Regions from separate parts of the Homo sapiens genome. Here all the other regions are reported to be linked to region 3. The links are microRNA targets in miRTarBase. Many come from high-throughput screens and were not tested one by one. Region 3 holds a microRNA gene; each other region holds the end of a gene's coding sequence. Distances are from middle to middle.

Region 1 (3,163 bases), not on the chromosome of region 3:
GTAAGTCTTCTAGTCAGGTAGCGTCAGTCCTCCAACTCTGCTCCTCTCCTTCAGTATTGAATTGATTATTCTGGGTCTTTTGCCTCTCCATAAAAACTTTAGGATCATCTGTTAATATCCACAAAATAACTTGCAGGGATTTTGATTGAAATTGCATTGAATCTATAGATCAAGCTGGAAGGAACAAACATGTTGAAAATACTGAGTCTTCTTATCCATAAACATGGAATTTTTCTCCATTTATTTGGTTCTTCTTTTGTTCATCAGGGTTTTGTAGTTTTTCTCATATATATAGAAAGAGTACACTTTTTTTAGACTTGTACCTAAGTATTTTATTGTTTGGGGGTGCTAAAGTAGAAGTACTTTGTTTTTAACTTCAAATCCACTCATCCATTGTTGGTATATAGGAAAGTGATTAACTTTTGTATATTTTGAAATCTTGAATAGTTGTTCATTATTCTAGGGGATTTTCTTGATCCCTTTTTACACTTTCTACCTGGAAAATGTCATTTGTGAACAAAGAGAGTTTGTTTCTTCTTTCAGTATCATTAAACTTTAACTTCCTTTTCTTGCCTTGTTCCATCTGTTAGAGCTTAAAGTGCTGAAAGGAGATGGTGAGAGCGGATGTATGGGCCTTGGTCGTGATTTTAGTGGGAAAGTTTCTACATTCTTACTACTGTATATCATGTTAGTTTTGAGGTCCAGTGGACAAGGAATGGTCAAGTGACACAAAAGGCCTCACCTGATATTGCAAGGACTTGCTGACAGTGAGAGGTCAGGGACAGGGGAGACCCCACCCACACTGTGAAGTCCTGAGAACAGCGAGGGGTCAGGGACAGAGGAGACCCCACTCACACTGTGAGGTCCTGAGGACAGGGTGCAGCCTCTTCCAGGCTTGATGGGGGTCTGCACGGTGGCTGCAGGCATGGTGAGCCCTTGCTGCCGGCTCCCAGCACTGACAGGAGGGGGGGCCATGGTGTCCGCATGCCTTGGGCTAGGCTTGAGGGCCAACACTGGCCTCCTTGGGGTGTCCAGACAGGCTGGGAGCACTCACTCACCTGTGGCCTTAGTGGAAGGACCCCAGAGGGGACAGGGCAAGGTCTCCTTCTGCAGGCTGCTAAGTATAAACCAAATAAGAAAAAGCAGAAAACAATTTCCCAGATCAAACAAAAAATAACATCAGAGTGCTGGGTGCAGTGGCTCACGCCTGTAATCTCAGCACTGTGGGAGGCTGAGGCGGGCGGATCACTTGAGGTCGAGAGGTTGAGACCAGGCTGACCAACATGGAGAAACCCCATCTCTACTAAAAATACAAAGTTAGCCAGGTGTGGTGGCGCATGCCTGTAATCCCAGCTACTCGGGAGGCTGAGGCAGGAGAATCGCTTGAACCTGGGAGGCGGAGGTTGTGGTGAGCTGAGATCATGCCATTGCACTCCAGCCTGGGCAACAAGAGTGAAACTCCCTCTCAAAAAAAAAAAAAAAAAAAAAAAATCAGAGCTCCCTGGGCTGTGGCTTTCTAGAGAGGCTGCTTCCCAGTTTTCCTGCCAGGCACCTGCACTGGCTCTGGCGACTGGCATTGCAGCCCCTAGTCCAGCTGGAGCCTCAGAGCAGGACCTCCTGTGGAACTGGGGTCTTAGCAGACATTCTCAGTGAGTGACATCAAGACCAGGCCATCCTGGATTAGGTTGGGCCCTGGACCTGTGGCAGGCGGCCGTGCAGGGTCCTCCCCAGAACCTTTGGAGGGAGCACGCCCAGGATATCTCAACGTGGGGCTTCTGGCTGCAAAGCTGCGAGGGCCCCTGTGTGTGAGGCTCACTGAGCAGCCCTGGGAAGGCAGCACCACTGGGCATTGGGTGCACCAGCGTGGAGGCCCCACAGGCTGGGCCGTGGCACCATCCTGGGACTCGCCTCCCATGTGCCCGCACCCTTCCTTGCAGCCCTGCACGGGGCATCTGAAAGCAGCATGGCAAAGGGGCACCACCCGCAATGTGACGCGCAGTCCCGCCAGAGGCCATGCTCACCTACCCCAGGGCCTCTGAGGGAGTGGCCACTGACCCAGACACAAGGCACCAGGTGGAAACACTGGCACCCATCTTCAAAAACCACTCTGAAGCCAGCATTTCCCTTTATTTCTGGATGGAAACGGGGCCCTAAAAGCAGAAATCAATATTTTTGTTTGAAAGATGCAGTCATGCTAATTTCACTTTTGGCTAAAACCGAGACGATAAAAGAACAGTTGGGTGTTTATAGGATGCCCTCAAAGTGAGCTGGCTAAGTGAGCTGGGCTCTAACTTCACTCACAAATTTATAGTACAGCTAAGAAGGCCAGTCTGTCCATGAAAGGGAGCCGAGACAAGACGAGGGCGGCCTCTTCCAGGCCTGTGCCAAGTGTCCTTGGGGTCCCGCCATGGTCCACACTTCTGCAGCATCCGCAGAACATGTGGCCGGGTCCTGCCCAGCAGCAGGGACAGCCAAGTGGGAGGCAGGCATGGTGCACACCTGGGGAGGCCCCTGGTGCAGAAGCAGCCCCACAGTAGCAGCCCCATCCAGAGGAAGACCACTCCGGAGGGCCACAGGCCTCTGCAGCCCTGGCACTGCCGCCCAGCCCTCCATCTCAGCGGGATGTGCAGGGTGAGACAGGAATGCAGGGACGTTCTGCCCCTAGGTCAGCCTCTTCATCCGCCTGTTGTGCTTGTCGATGGTCAAGGTTGCCCTGTCCACAGCTGCTGCAACGCCATCCAGGGCTTCGTCTTGTCTCTCCAGCTCACTCTCGGCCTCCAGGGCCAGCCCCTTCATCCTCCTCAGGATCTGGGGAGAAGCACAAGATCACAGCAGAGGCTGCCATCTCTGCAAACTCTAGCACAGACAACATCTCCCCCTCTCACACACCCAAGAGCCTTTGCGTTACCACCTGGGTGATGCCATCTGCGAGCCAGCAGGAGGGAGCCGGCAGCCCAGCACCAGGGTCAGGTCATGGCTCTGCCTCTGCCAGTACAGGCCTGATGAGATGAGGTGCCTGCCCCACCTCCTGCCAGCTGCCTGCCCGCACCTCCTGCCTGGTGCAGTGGCCACACCCTGGCCTGCCATCTCCAGGCTGCGGAGTGCTCTGTTTGGCTGACCTTGTGGGAGCGTTGCATGTGGGTGTGGAATTCCTGCCCACAGT
Region 2 (3,163 bases), 130 Mb from region 3:
TCAAGGGCTCAGCACTGTACAAACCAGAAATCCAAATTTGCTAAGTAGTAACACATTTTCAAAAATATCAACAGGAACTTTTGATGCTTTAGTTGATATTTTGACTATGAAAATGAGGAATTCTAAAACACAAGAGAAAATAACATTTGATTGTAATTCTGAACTGCATTGGATTTTTATCTATTTATGTTATCCATTTATGATGTGTTTTGAGTGTTTTGCTCTATGTCCTAGATGTTATTTCATTTCTAAAAATGAAAATCATTCATAGGAAACATACAACAGGGATCCTGGTCTGGGTTTTCAACCATTTCTTTTCCAAATCTTCTAATTCAGGTTACAGCAGTGGTTCTCAATGGGAGGCGCTTTTACACGCCCCTCACCCCCGCAGTGGACATTTGGCAATGTCTGGTGATGTTTTTGTGTGTCATGACCGGGAGTGGGGTCTACTGGCAATGAGTTGGTAGAGTTCAGTGTTGCTGCTCAACATCCCACGGTGCAGGGGACAGCCACCCCAGCCACCAAGAACGACCCAGCTCCAGACGACCGTCGTGCTGAGGCTGAGAAACGCTAGGTTGCAGGGATGAAAGAAGCCAGCAACCAATTTCCATTCGTTACATCTGCAAAAAAAGTTTTATTTTACTAAATAAATTTAAAAATCGTGTTCTAGCTTCCTCTGGATTAGGAAGTGTGTGTAACATTGGTTTGCTGTTTCCAAAAGAATTGGTGGGAGAGGTAGAGACTGAAGGCTTGACTTCCTCAGAGCCACTGATAGGGAAAACGCCATCTTCTCAGGGCTGTGAGACACCTGGGAATCGATGCCTTGCAGCCCTGTTCTACCAGCTGGGAGACTTCTGCCAGTTCACCTTCCTGGACCCTGGGTCCCTCATCTGTAATGTGGATTTGATAACAGCATCTACCTCATAGAATTTCCGTGCAAATGAAATGAGTGAAAATATGTGAAAATTGCATGAGTGAAAAATACCTAAAAGCGTCAGCATGCTGCCGGCCGTGTCTGCGTGATGTGTGAGTGTTTGCTGCTGGTGTTATTCACGCATGACATAGACATTTTCCCAGTTAAACATGCTTGTATTCAGATGTTGTGGAAGAAACCTTAAGGATGAGACAAGGAACTGAATATCTCCCTTTTGCCGGTGGGCCCAGCATGGTCAGCACAGGGTCCCTGAGGGGCTTCGTCCAGCTTCCTTCCTCTTTCCTGTTCATACGGTGCCCGGGTGTGCAGTGTGGGTCTCCCAGTGGTGCCCACCTGCCAGCACATTTTGCTCACCTGTCCGACCCGTGGTTTCCTACTTGCCAGTGTTGGCCCCCAGCCCCCTATAACTTGTCTGCTTCCCAATGGGCAGTGGCAAATATCCTCTGCACAAGGAGATACAAAAATCTTGTGTATTTTAATAGAGATTTCATCTCTTTCTTAATGCAACGCAGCTGTGTATATCCTAGATCCATACAGTTCTGGGGGATGGACACTGGTGACCCCTAGCATTATGCTGGGAGTGTTTTCTTGATTATATACCCTGAACTCACAACCCTCACTCCAGCATTCTCCATGTGTTAAGACTAGATATGGTTTTGGATGATACTGACTCAGTTTCCACTTGCTAACGTCCCGAAAAGCTGACTGGCTTCACCAGCCATACTTGAAATACAACATATATGAACAGTCACTAAAAATCAGCAGGTAGCTAAACGTTTTTACTTTTGTCCTTGATGATATTGCCATCGTCTCTACTGTTACCTCCTCCTTCACTTCACTTTTTAAGTGCACTCATTCTGTGAAAACACCTTTTTTTTTAAATAGGGAAAGAAAAATGAATTGACTTGATATTCTTAAAAAATAAAAAGATGACCCAAAATATACAGAACCATTAATATGAAATTAAAGATCTTCTTTCTCAGTGGAAAAAAATTAGAACCACATTGCTGAAGTCTCTCAACATTTCATTTTTAATTTTTCTAATAGTACATTCTTTAAAAGAAGTTAACGACTTCAATTCCAAATATAAGGATTAAATAATGCAATGAAAAGCTGTCATTTTCAGTGAAGCTATTGCCTAATTACCCTGGAAAAAAGTATTCTTATGACTGAACTGATGCAAAAATCCCTTAGAAAAGCTTCATTTGTTGCCTGTAAAGAGTCTTCTTAAGGTCACTTTTACTTCTAGACTGCCCCCTTGTTTCCAGTGAAAGAGTTTTGCTTGGTAATGGCTTGTGGTTCCACAGTGTTTTGTGTATGAAAAGCGTAGACTAAGAGATACTACTGAAGTCGCTCAAATTGTAGATTCTGCCATGAAAGGAAGTCCCAACACTGTAACATTTCCCCTTAATCTTCAGCAAGACACATGAAAAAAAAAAAAAACTCAAGTCCCAACTGAATCTTTACTTTGATCATCACTTCCAGCGGCATTCAGAGGCTGCTGTGCGGTCAGACACAGAGCTCCCTCGAGGCCCCTGTGTGCTTATGAAGTACCTGCAGGTTCTGAGCGTCGGCGCCAGCCCGGGCCAGGGGTCTGCAGACAGAGGCACCTGGTGGCTGCTGGGGCTCCCTGGGGTGAGCCATGGCACGGGAGCCCCTAAGCGCCAAGCTCGCCACGGTCTTCGTCTCTCGGAAGGCAGGGGAAGAAGCAGCGCTCCCAGATAGGACAGAGAAAAGCCTATGAAACAATGCTCTCCAGTCACCAACCAGTTGCCTGATCAGAGCTGGAATTTACTGCTGGGACAAGAGTGCACTCCGATTTGCTTTCATTTTTTCCAGACGCTTCACTAAGTGGCCGTTGCTCACCTCGAGCTCTTCTGTTTTATCCAATGCAGAGCGGAGCTGGGAACGGAGGAAAGGCAGTGAGCTTTAAGGAACTTGTTTCCTCCAAACATAACAGGGTTCTGTGTTACCGAAATTCCAATCCTACTGAAAAATAAAATGATAACTTGGCCCCTGGTCCCTCATGATGCCCTTCCTCCTCTGAAACAACTGGACTCCAGAGAGGGAACACCCTTGGGGATCCTGATGGTTTTCTTTTTTTTTTCTTGAGATGGAATCTCGCTCAGTCGCCCAGGCTGGAGTGCAGTGGCGTGATCTCGGCTCACTGCAAGCTCCGCCTCACGGGTTCAAGCGATTCCCCTGCCTCAGCCTCCCGGGACTACAGGT
Region 3 (3,163 bases):
CCTTTCTCCATCACTCCTTACCTGACCTACCCCAACACAGGTGGCCAGAGGCAGGAGGGCTCCCCAACAGCTCCTACAGGTGTTCCCTGCAGCTTCCAGCCAATTCTCACAGAGCGACAGCTGTTCTTCTGGCCTTTGCTTGGGGTCTGAGCCCAAGCACATGTATCCACATGTGCGAGTTCAGGCTGAGCTCCCACGGTGGGCAGCACCTTTTGTGTGTGTGCCTGTGCATGTGTGCACACATATGTGTGAACTGTGCAGGCTGTAATTTCCAAAACCAAATTTGGCTTTTTTTGATTTGTAAGTTATTTACATCAACGAATTTTAAAGAAGCATAAAATGAAATTAAGTTAAAGTTTTAGTGGATCACCTCTGAAAAAGAAAAACTTTCATTCTGTGAAATTGGATTTCTAGAAAATTCCAGGATTCCCCACAGTTAAAGGCACAAGGCAGGGACAAATTCTGGCCATGTCACATGCAGGGGGCATGGGTAGTAAGAGTGGGAAATGGGGTTCGGGGCTCAGTTCCCCAGCACCTTGCTCTTCCTTTTTCTGACTCTCCTGGTTTGTCTTTTCTGGTGTCTGTGAGCCCCTCAAGGGCAGAGGCCATTTCTCATTCATCCTAGCATCCAGTACCCAGGGCCCAGCCTGTCATGAGGAGGTGCCCAGCAATCTGAGCGTATTTAAGACTGGGTCCTGATTCTGTCTTTTGTCCCCTCCTTGGGTTCCCAAACTCTCTGTATTCTGCTCCTTCACATTTAAATTGACCCCCAAACAGGATCTCCCAGCCTCCTTGGAGATGTGGGCTCCATGCAGGGATGACAGAGGCTGGGGTCTGGAGCCTTCCCCCAGTGCCACCGAGCTGGAGCCTGCTGAGTTTGCAAGTCATCACGGAGAATCCTCGGCTCCTTCGGAGATACCACCCCTGGGCCTACTCTGGGTTCTGAGATGGCAGCCCTAGTGCCAACCTCATCCAGAAGTCATCACTCCCTGGGGGACTGTGAGGGTGTCATCGAATATCTGCCAATCTGCTGACAAGTAGACATCCCAATGGCCATGGAGAAAACATCCGTGCAAGGGCTTTGATCCTCCGAGGCTCCATGAGAACACTGCTATTATAATAGTTACTAAGCCTAATAAAAAGTATAATGATAGAATATATATCACGATGTTGACCCAAAATGGCAATGTTTAGTTCTTAGGGAATTCAAAGTACACAAAGTCCTTGAGAAGGACACAGCTCTCAAAGAGACTCAGGTCACCTCCCTGCAGTCGTCACCCTCCCCGGTAGCCAGTGCAGGCACAAGGATCTGCCACTCCCTGCTTAAACCCTACCCCCTTCCAGAGCTCCCCATTCCCTGTGGGAAGTCACAGGAACACCCAATCCTTGTGAGCCAGACCTTGGCCCAGACTCTCGCCAGTCACCAGCCAGCTGGCTGCTGCTGTTCCGGTGCCCTTCCTCATGCTGTTCCCAGCGGACTCTCCCCACAGGCTGCCCTTCATCCTCCAGAGCTCCACCAGGGTGATCGTAGACCAGAAGGGTCCAGGTGCTTGACCAGCAATCATTCTAGTAACTTTTGGGAGGTCACACTTTCTAGGAGGCCTCTAGTAAGTCCCTCCCCTCCACTTCCAGCTGGGGCCGGTGACCCCTCACCCTAAGACGTGAGGCCTCTAGATCTGTCTTATTCTGCTCCCAGCCTTCCAGGTTCTGGAGAGCAGGAGGCCCTGGCCCAGGAACAGGCACCCAGCAGATGCTCAGCAGCCATGTGTGCAACAGAACTAAATCTTCCAGCTTTGGCTGAAAGCAAACATCATGGCTGTCTCAGCAGGCACGTGCTCCCAGGGTTGTGTCCTTCCTGGAAGATCTCAGCTTCTCCCACATCTGTGTCTCCTGAATCCACACCAAAGGAGCCTCGTTCAGAAGGGACCCCAGGACAGGGCACGGACACCTGTAATCCCAGCACTTTGAGTGGCCAAGGCAGGCAGATGGTTGAGCCCAGGAGTTTGAGACTAGCCTGGGCAACATGGCCAAATCTGTCTCCACAAAAAACGAAAAATTAGCAAGGTGGGTGGTGCACACCTGTAGTCCCAACTACTTGGGAGGCTGAGGTGGGAGGATCGCTTGAGCCTCACAGGCCAAGGCTGCAGTGAGCTATGATCTAGCCACTGCACACCAGCCGCTGCAACAGAGTGAGACCCTGTCTGAAAAAATAAATAAATAAAAAATAAAAGGAAGGAGCCCTGGGTTTGATTCGGGCCTCACGATGTGCCCTCTCACTGCACGAAAGTGGCCCAGGGGCACACTCTGCCCCTCTCTAGGAGGTGGTAGTGACCTGGGAGGGCCTTGGAGCGGATCTTTGTGTCCCTCAGTACATGGAGAAGTAAACTGAGGCACAGAGAGACGGGCATGTGTCCCAGATGGTGGGAGCCAGTGCTCGCTGGGGCAGCCCCTCCTTGGACCCAGCGGCAGAATTTCAGCAGCAGGTGGGGCCAAATAATCGGGTCCAGGGTGAGAGAAACACCTGTGTAAATTTGTCTTATAGGGCCCTGGAGAGGAAGGGTAGGAGCTGGGGCAGGTCAAGGTGCCCCTGGAAGCTTCTAGAGACCTGGATACACACCAGACAGCAGCGGCTGATGAAGGAAACAGGTGGGCTTTTAACAAAGTGTGGACAGTCACGATTCTTTCCCTGTAGCCCTGGGACCCCAATGTCCTTAGCCACGGTCCCTCAGCTGCCCCGGGAGCCGCCAGCATGAGCCGGTGTCCCGTTTTAGCGCAGGCGTGCCCTGGGACACTGCGGGCGCCCAGTGACCCGACTGAGCAAAAAGGGGCTTCAAGTGGAAGCCCCTCTTCCAGGCACCTCCGTGTCACTCCTGCGCCTGCATAGGGTGCCTTCCCGGTAAGATCCTGAGAGTTTGCACGGGCCGGTCCGGGCTCCCGGCTCTGCCCACCTGATGTCACTCGAGGACTGCCCCTCCCGGCCTTCGCGCGGAGCGCGGGCGCCACCCAGTGGTGCATTCGAGTAACCGAACCCAGCTCTCAGCCAGATCCCCGCCTCCAGCGGGCTCCCCAGTTATTTTCTCTTAAAAAGGGCCTTAACTCTATGTTGAATAGGAGTGGTGAGAGAGGGCATCCCTGTCTTGTGCCAGTTTTCAAAGGGAATGCT
Region 4 (3,000 bases), not on the chromosome of region 3:
CCATCTGCTGTATATAGATAAGAACATCATGGTGCAGTAAAAGAAGCCTGGCCTTTGGAGTCAGAACAGCAGGGTGACTTGGGGTCAGACCCAGAGCACCCCATTTCCTTCTCTGTAAGATGAGGATAATAAGAGTAACAACCTTTTAGGGTTAAGGTGAGTTTTCAGCTTAGGAAGTCTGGGAATATTGCAAAGGGCTTGGCAGGAACCCATGGTGAGGATCTAGTTCCAAGTTGATAGGTACAGAAAACCAGAACATCGGGCCTTGAGTAAAGAGTGAAGTTTCACAAACCACAAAGCACCTGCTATGTGCAGGAGAGCATGGCAGAAGGAGGCTGCTTGGCCCTGGTCCTTGAGATTCTGACAGTGTCCTAGACAGACATGGGGAGATCTGCACCTATTTGACGTTACCAACTTCTCTTTTTCAGCCCCTGTCTATCAAAAGTTATTAGAGAGGATGAAGCATTAGCTTGAAGCACTACAGGAGGAATGCACCACGGCAGCTCTCCGCCAATTTCTCTCAGATTTCCACAGAGACTGTTTGAATGTTTTCAAAACCAAGTATCACACTTTAATGTACATGGGCCGCACCATAATGAGATGTGAGCCTTGTGCATGTGGGGGAGGAGGGAGAGAGATGTACTTTTTAAATCATGTTCCCCCTAAACATGGCTGTTAACCCACTGCATGCAGAAACTTGGATGTCACTGCCTGACATTCACTTCCAGAGAGGACCTATCCCAAATGTGGAATTGACTGCCTATGCCAAGTCCCTGGAAAAGGAGCTTCAGTATTGTGGGGCTCATAAAACATGAATCAAGCAATCCAGCCTCATGGGAAGTCCTGGCACAGTTTTTGTAAAGCCCTTGCACAGCTGGAGAAATGGCATCATTATAAGCTATGAGTTGAAATGTTCTGTCAAATGTGTCTCACATCTACACGTGGCTTGGAGGCTTTTATGGGGCCCTGTCCAGGTAGAAAAGAAATGGTATGTAGAGCTTAGATTTCCCTATTGTGACAGAGCCATGGTGTGTTTGTAATAATAAAACCAAAGAAACATACGTCCTGTGTGCATGGTACAGTGTGCTGACCTGAGGCCGTCATGCTCCTCCACACCTCAATTCTGCTCTGGAGAAGCTCAGAAAGGAGCCCCGAGGGATGGTTTTGGGGAGATTCCAGCAGCCAGCCCTCAGACAGCCAGACAGCTCATGGGGGTTTGAGCCTGTCTTTGCCAAACAGGTTTTTATTTCACCCTCCTCCGGTCCTGGGGTTTCAAGTTTTCAGTGTTGCCTTCACCCCGCACTTTATTCCTCTTATTACTTGGAAGTACCTTCCCTCCAGCATGGTGATCCCCTGCCTGTGTGCTGGACTTTTGAGTCCTCAGCACCAACCTGTGAAGTGGTTGCCAGCATAATCCCATTATGCAGATGAGGAGACCAAGGCCCAGGGAAGGGAGAACCACCAGCAGCACGTAAAATAGCTGAGCTGGGACTGGAACTCACACCTCCTGACTCTCAGTGACCACCACTGACAACAGCATAAGTCCAGGTTTTCCAGGCCCATCCCCTCTGTGCCAACCCACATTCAGATTCCTTCCCCGGCTCCCGTAATCTCTGGCATCTAGAATATCCTCAGGACTCTGAGAGGTGATATCATGTGGTTGTGGTGCCATTGCCCCCTACCTGTGTGGCCTGGGGCCAGTCATGTGACCTCCCAGGGTCTCCTCTTCTGTAATAGGGAGATGACCGTCACATCTACTTCATGGGTCCATCGTGAGGATGAAATGAGATGATCTATATAAAATGCTTGGTACAACATTAGGTGGCCTTATTTTTATCCTGCCGTCTGGGACTGCTCAGGATCAATGCGCCAGAGAGCCTTTATTTGTGTCTTTCCCACAGGTGGGCTGGCCCACTTTCCTAGAGAATGGGACAGACCTCCTTCCCACCCACACCCATCTCTGCCAAGGCTGATTCACTCCAGCAGGCGGAGCTCATTTCACTTCATGGAACCAATGACCCAAAGATATATCCCCAGCACTACTGCTGGTCAGTCCACTGCTGCTGGGAATACAGCAATGGTAGTGGCAGACAGAGGCCCTCTCTTAAATAGCTTCCAGTCTGAGGAAAGAGAGATATGACATCAATCCATTAAAATCATTCATCCATTGGTTCCACAAATATTTGTTGAGGGCTACCTATGTGCACCCCCATGTTAGACCCTGGGGAATAGACATGTCATTCTCATGAGGCTTCTCTACTGATGGGGGGGAAGAGAATTGTCAACCAGATAATGGCACTACAGCCTGTGTGTTCTTAGTGACTCTGAGGATAGCACTGTGGTTCTGTGACAGATAATGAAGGATTTGGAAGCAGGAATGCCCAGGAGCTCCCAGAAGTGGGAAGAGATGAGAGGAATGGAAGGAACTTACCTGAAGGTGAAGGCATCAGGCTAGGGGACCAAGGGAGAAGGTGTCCTGAGAGGTAAGGCTTAACCTTGGGTGTGAATTCAGTTCCCGTCACTCTCCCATAGCTCTGTCCTGCTGTTCCCACCTCCCCTGCAGCCATGCGGGCTTGGGCGGCTAGTGAGGGCCTTGCTCATGCTGGGTATCCTATGCTATGCTTCACTTTGAGCACCTAAAATACACACACTGCACTTTACCAAGATGACCTCGGAAACCAAAGAGGTGATCAGCATAAGTTTTAAAGACCCTTAAATTTAAAGTAAAAATCACTACAGGATCCATTATAAATGCCAAACACTAAGATGTGTGTTTCCAGTTCTCCCCTTCATTTGTCCCTGCCACTCCCTGCCCTGACTTTGCCCCACCCCCTAGTAATGTGGGCTCCACTCTATGCTCCAAACTCTCCCTGGAGAGAAATCCTCCCTGTGGTTGAGGACAAGGCGCAGCCTTCCCCTCCCACCAAAGAAGGTCAGATTCCCTTTTTTGGTTCCTAACCATCCATACCCCTTCTTTTCTCATGAAGACTCGGGCTAAGC

The links. Region 3 holds the annotated microRNA hsa-miR-4267 (UCCAGCUCGGUGGCAC, at 851-866, opposite strand). A microRNA usually pairs through its seed, bases 2 to 8, with sites in the 3' UTR of a target mRNA and lowers its output. Matches are read on the target gene's strand: a 7mer-m8 pairs with bases 2 to 8, a 7mer-A1 pairs with bases 2 to 7 and ends in A, and an 8mer does both.
Region 1: the mRNA of SNAP47 is a reported target of hsa-miR-4267. The part of its 3' UTR that is shown has no 7-base or 8-base seed match.
Region 2: the mRNA of LRRFIP1 is a reported target of hsa-miR-4267. Seed matches in the 3' UTR shown: 7mer-A1 at 1,197-1,203.
Region 4: the mRNA of TGFBI is a reported target of hsa-miR-4267. Seed matches in the 3' UTR shown: 7mer-A1 at 873-879.

Annotation. Positions count from the first base shown.
Region 1 is chr1:227,780,172-227,783,334 of GRCh38, reverse strand. SNAP47 (synaptosome associated protein 47) reads right to left here. Exons shown (of 5, transcript NM_053052.4): 5 at 2,109-2,808. The coding sequence ends at 2,662. Among named protein-coding and RNA genes, the nearest start is that of PRSS38, 34 kb to the left of the region's middle.
Region 2 is chr2:237,779,095-237,782,257 of GRCh38, reverse strand. It overlaps LRRFIP1 (LRR binding FLII interacting protein 1), which reads right to left. Exons shown (of 24, transcript NM_001137550.2): 24 at 615-2,836. The coding sequence ends at 2,726. Among named protein-coding and RNA genes, the nearest start is that of RBM44, 18 kb to the left of the region's middle.
Region 3 is chr2:110,069,167-110,072,329 of GRCh38, forward strand. MIR4267 (microRNA 4267) reads right to left here and starts at 876; the gene lies at 795-876.
Region 4 is chr5:136,062,758-136,065,757 of GRCh38, forward strand. TGFBI (transforming growth factor beta induced) reads left to right here. Exons shown (of 17, transcript NM_000358.3): 17 at 429-1,061. The coding sequence ends at 469. Among named protein-coding and RNA genes, the nearest start is that of TGFBI, 35 kb to the left of the region's middle. RefSeq lists a silencer at 1-20.